Regions from separate parts of the Homo sapiens genome. Here region 1 is linked to region 2. Evidence: fine-mapped expression QTL. A gene starts in region 2. The other region holds a variant in brackets. All regions are shown on one strand. Distances are from middle to middle. Region 1 overlaps GLIPR2 (GLI pathogenesis related 2). Region 2 holds the start of GLIPR2 (GLI pathogenesis related 2).

Region 1 (2,904 bases), 20 kb before region 2:
AGGAAAGTCATGATCAGAGTATCTAAGATTCCCATAGGGTGGTTAAGAAAGAAAAAAGGGCAACCACTTCACACTCAGCAGGATGGTTACTATGAAAAACAGAAACAAAAATAATAGAACATAACAAGTTTTGGCAAGGAAGTGGAGAAATTGGAACTTCTGTGCACTGCTGATGGGAATGTAAAATGGCACAGCTGCTCTGGAAGACAGTATGGCAGTTCCTCAAAAAATTAAACAGAATTGCAATGACTCAGCAATTCCACTTCTAGGTATATACCCAAAAGTACTGAAAGCAGGGATTCAGATATTTATACGCCCATGCTCCTAGCAGAGAGGTTGAAAGATTGGCCCAAAGTCACATAGCCCGGTCGGGCGCAGTGGCTCACGCCTGTAATCCCAGCACTTTGGGAGGTTGAGGTGGGCGGATCACTTGAGGTCAGGAGTTCAAGACCACCCTGGCCAATGTGATGAAACCCCGTCTCTACTAAAAATAGAAAAATTAGCCAGGTGTGGTGGCACACGCCTGTAATCCTAGCTACTGGGGAGGCTGAGGAAAGAGAATTGCTTGAACCTGGGAGGCAGAGGTTGCAATGAGCCGAGACTGTGCCATTGCACTCCAGCCTGGGTAACAGAGTGAGACTCCATCTCGAAAAAACAAAAAACAAAAAAAAAACCCACAAAGACACACAGCCCAAGTGTCCATCAACAAGTGAAAGGATAAGCAAAATGTGGGAGATATATATGTATATATGTGTATATATATATGTGTGTGTGTGTGTGTGTGTGTGTGTGTGTTTAACAGATATTATTCAGCTTTAAAAAGAAATTCTGAGGCCGGGCGTAGTGGCTCATGCCTGTAATCCTAGCACTTTGGGAAGCTAAGGCGGGTGGATCACCTGGGGTCAGGAGTTTGAGACTAGCCGGGCCAATGTGGTGAAACCCCGTCTCTACTAAAAATATAAAAATTAGCTGGTCATGGTGGTGGGTGCCTGTAACCCCAGCTACTTGGGAGGCTGAGGCAGGAGAGTCGCTTGAACCTGGGAGGCAGAGGTTGCAGTGAGCCAAGACTACACCACTGCACTCCAGCCTGGGCGACAGAATGAGACTCCATCTCAAAAAAATAAAAAATAAAAAAATAAAAATAAAAAAGAGACTGGGTGTGGTGGATCATGCCTGTATTCTCAGCACTTTGAGAGGCCAAGGTGGGCAGATCAAGAGGTCAGGAGTTCGAGACCA[G/T]CCTGGCCAACATAGTGAAACCCCATCTCTACTAAAAATACAAAAAAAAAAAAAAAAAATTAGCTGGGCATGATGGCGGGTGCCTATAATCCCAGCTACTCAGGAGGCTGAGGCAGGAGAATCGCTTGAACTCGGGAGGCAGAGGTTACAGTGAGCCAAGATCACGCCATTGCACTCCAGCCCGGGCAACAGTGTGAGACTCCGTCTCAAATAAAATATAATAAAATAAAATAAATTAAAATAAAAAGGAATTCTGACACGTGCTCTAATAAGGGTAAACCTTGAAAACATGATGCTAAGTGAAATAAGCCAGACACAAATGGGCAAATATTGTATGATTCCATTTATATGAGGTAGCTAGAATAGTTAAAACCAAAAGTAGAACAATGGTTGGGGTGGGGTGGAGATGGTTTCAGGATGAAACTGTTCCACCTCAGATCATCAGGCATTAGATTTTCATAAGGAGCATGCAACCTAGATCCCTTGCGTGAGGAATTCATAATAGGGTTCATGCTCCTATGAGAATCTAACGCCACTGCTGATCTGACAGGAGGCGGAGCTCAGGCAGTAATCTTACTCACCCAGGCTCACCTCCTGCTGTGCGGCCCAGTTCTTAACAGGCCATGGGCCCATACAGGTCCACTGCCCAGGAGTTGGGGTCCCCTGGTCTAAGGGGTACTGAGTTTTAATCTGTGAAGATGAAAAGAATTCTAGAGATGGATGGTGGCGATGATTGCATAACAGTGTAAATGTGTTTAATCCCACTGAACTGTATACCTAAAATGGTTAAAATGGTAAATTTTCAGTTATATGTGCTTTACTACAATTTCTTTTTTTTTTTTTTTTTTTTTTTTTTTAGACATGGCTTCACTCTGTTGTCCAGGCTGGAGTGCCGTGGTGCAATCATGGTTCACTGCAACCTCCAACTCCTTGACTCAAGCAATCCTCCCACGTCAGCCTCCTGTAACCAGGACCACAGGCACGTGCCACTACACCCAGCTAGTTTTTTAATTTTTTAATTTTTTAATTTTTTGAGATGGAGTCTTGCTCTGTCACCCAGGCTGGAGTGCAGTGGTGCAATCTTGGCTTACTGAAACCTTCGCCTCCCAGATTCAAGCGATTGTTGTGCCTCAGCCTCCCAAGTAGCTGGGATTACAGGCGTGCGCCACCATGCCTGGCTAATTTTTGTATTTTTAGTAGAGATAAGGTTTCACCATGTTGGCCAGGCTGGTCTCGAACTCCCAACCTCAGGTGATCCGCCCACCTCAGCCTCCCAAAGTGCTGGGATTACAGGTGTGAGCTGCCGTGCCCAGCCTAGTTTTTAATTGTTTTTGTAGAGATGGGGTCTTGCCATGTTGTCCAGGCTGGTCTGGAGCTCCTGGATGAAGGGATCCTCTTGCCTTGGCCTCCCAAAGTACTGGAGTTACAGGAATAAGCCACCACACCCAGCCTATTTTACTAAAAAATTAAAAAAAGAAAGTAGGAGAGAGAGGAAGAGACTGGTGTACACACTCTTCTAGTTCTTTAGGGAAGAGACAAAGTCGGTCCTTCCCATTGCATCCTGTGTATGGTAAGGACTGAAATAAATGTTTGTAGATTAAATTCTATTTTTTCTCCTGTAGTTAAACTCCATTTAAAACTTTTTTTTTTTGAGACAGTCTCACTCTG
Region 2 (2,904 bases):
TTTCTCCACAAATTTCTACAGAGAAAGGAGTTGATTTCCCAAGCAGATATCTCGAAAGACTCGCTCTCATCTGCCATACTTTTGCTCCATCACCATCTGTCATCCTGTTAACTAAATGGCAACCCATTATATCACCTTTCCATACTGTGAAGAACCCCAGGGCTCATACGGCCACCCTCATTGTACAGACAGGGAGGAACAGAGGGAAGGAGGCTTGCTCAGTATCACACAGCCAGTGATTGGCTGGGCCAGGGCTGAAAGCCAGACCTGCCTCTACAGCCTAGGAAGGCTGGTTAGGACCAAGGCCAGGGAAAGCCACTTGCGCCCAGCGCTGGCATCTCCTGAGTCCAGATCTTGGAGGACAGATCCTAGAAGGGACCTAGCCTTACTCATCTGAAGTGGACAATCCGGATGAAGCAGGACTTCTGAATCCTGTTCAACAGCTGTTCTCTAAGAGCCTCCTGTGAGGCAGAAGCAATGCTGAGATAAACACGGCCCCTGGCAGCCAGGGGTGAGGACCCGGTGGGAAACAGGTCTATGGCTGAACTCTTGTCCCCGGCCCACTACAGGAAGGGCTGCAGCGAGGAAAACACCAGGTTGGGCGCTCCCTCCCGGGGGGAATCACAGATGGGCTCCAGCCCAGGAGCTGAGCCTAGAGGGATGGGATTTTCAGGCTGAGAGTTGGGGTGGTGAAGGCCCGGCAAGGAAACCTAGGGGAAGGGACCTGTGCACCAGCTTCTGGACAGCTCTAGTGTAGGGCGGAGGTAAGGGCTAGGGACCCACTCCCAGGGGCCCGAAGGCAGGACTGGAGTGTGTCCTTTCACTCTGAGGACAATGGTGAGGAAGGTGTTAGGGAGCGACAGGAGGAGAGCTGCGCTGCAGAAAGTTCATCCCGACAGCCACAGTAGAGAGGATGGGGTGCCCCAGGAGAAAGGGAGCCAGACCGAGCCTAGCACAGGGGGAGCCCGGCACGGCGCGGGCGCTCAGGAGAGAAGGAACAACAAATGGATGAGGGGGATGCTCAGGGCTGTCCTCGGGACAGCCGAGCGGGGCAAACTGCTTCGCAGCGAGAGCTGTTGTCACACTTTGGTGACTTTTCCAACTCTAAGTCTGGCCTCCTGAAACAAAGCAGAAGCCACGCCTTGGCGGGCCGCGGCGCGCAGCCCCTCAGGGTCGGGAAGCCCAACTTGGCGCGATCCCCGGCTCTCCGGCGGGGGCCTCCCTCGGGCTCGCCTTCCCCCCGGGTTCCCCGGAAACCGCGCCGGGGCGCTCCGCCCGCGCGCCCTCCACCCGCACCCCGGGCTCCCGCACTCCCCAGGACCTGGCTTGCGGCGGACGAGGGAGACGGCGAGGTCCGGGAGCGCGGGGTTCCGAACCATTCCGCAGCGGGCGAGCCCGCGGGCTCACCTGACTTGCCCATGGCCGGCTCCGCGCGCTCCTCGCTCCCCGCGGCTGCGCTGCACTGCGCTCGCCCGGCCCAGCGCCGCCCCAGAGCCCAGGACCGGGCTGATGCCGCGGCCCCTCCTCCGGCGCCGCCCGGCCCCCGCCTTATAAGGAGCGACAGCTGAGGGCGGAGGCGCCCGGGGCCACCCCGTGGGCCTCCCGGAGAGCTCACCCCTGGGAAGCAGCTCCGCGACTGCCGAGGGCTCCCCGGATGCGGCCGCGGGGCTCAAGCCTCCCGGACCCCACACCGAGCTGTCCCTTCCCGGGGCGCGTGGGGAAGCCCGCGCCTGCTGGGCCCCGGGTGGCTGCTCTGCGCCGACGCGCGGCGAGGACAGAGGGGCGCGCGGTCGCGGCACGAGGGGCGTTCCGGCCGGCGCCACCAGGGGACGGCCTCTCCCTGCCGCGGCCTGACACGACACACGCAGCCCCGGGGTGTGCCCCCATCTCCGGTGACTCTGGGCTCCGGAGGGCGGCTGGTCCGGGGAGGGGGATGCTCCTCTCCTAGGACACGCCCTCTAATGCCAGTCGGGGTGGAAGCGCCGCCGCCTCTGACCCGTCCACTCGCCCCTCATTGCCTCCCAGACCAAGCCAATTCCCACCCCTGCAGTCTGGCCCCAGACCTGTCTCCCCAACGCCCCACCTTTTCCCCATACTCCAGTCAAACTAGATGTCTTGTCATTCCCCAAACATGTTCTGGGATTTCCCACCTCCCTGCCTTTCCTCAGGCGGTCCCTCCTCCGGGAGTGCTGGCCCTGGAGCCACCATTCCAGTGCTGCCCATCCCTCGGGGTCGGCCGGTCTTTCCAACTGCCAGGTGCCCTGACCCTGGGAGCAGCACACACCAGGTACTGGGGAGATGTGGTCCCACCCATGGCCCCTGCCCCGTGGGAGAAGTGCACTTACTTGACCGCACAGCCCTAGTCACCTGTGCCAGACTTCCCGCAAGCGCTCCTTTCTGGGGAAGGGGCTCAGTACACCCCAAATGAAGGAAGCGAATTTTAAGGCTTTTCAATGAATGGGCACTGAAGTGAGCTGACCCACTGATGATAAGGCTAGAATTTGTAATACCAACGGCTTACGAATGTCCCGCAGGGCGATGGCTGGGCACTGTGCTCTCTATTCCTTTCCCCATGTCAGGCAAATACACCTACTGTATTTTAGTACCGTCATGAGTAATGACATTTCAGTCAATGCCAGACCACATATACTGTGGTAGTCCCAAGAGATTATGATACCATATTTTTACTATGTTTCTATGTTTACATCTGTTTATATATGCAAATTTTTACCATTGTGTTACAGTCACCTAAAGTATTCAGTATGGGTCAAATTGGTGCCCAACCCTGATTCAAAAGGGACTCCTGGGGCTGGGTGCGGTGGCTCACGCCTGTAATCCCAGCACTTCAGGAGGCGGAGGTGGGAGGATTCTTGAGCCCAGGAGTTCAAGACCAGCCTGAGGCAA

The links. PIP is the estimated chance that this variant, and not a neighbour inherited with it, causes the effect.
Region 1: its variant is the best candidate, but not a certain one, in a credible set for the expression of GLIPR2 in whole blood (INTERVAL, PIP 0.74).

Annotation. Positions count from the first base shown.
Region 1 is chr9:36,155,575-36,158,478 of GRCh38, reverse strand. All of the region lies in intron 4 of GLIPR2 (GLI pathogenesis related 2), which reads right to left. Among named protein-coding and RNA genes, the nearest start is that of CCIN, 12 kb to the left of the region's middle. The variant G/T (reference allele first, on the strand shown) is at 1,237.
Region 2 is chr9:36,135,295-36,138,198 of GRCh38, reverse strand. It overlaps GLIPR2 (GLI pathogenesis related 2), which reads right to left and starts at 1,466. Exons shown (of 5, transcript NM_022343.4): 1 at 1,408-1,466. The coding sequence starts at 1,420. RefSeq lists silencers at 1,165-1,214, 1,245-1,814.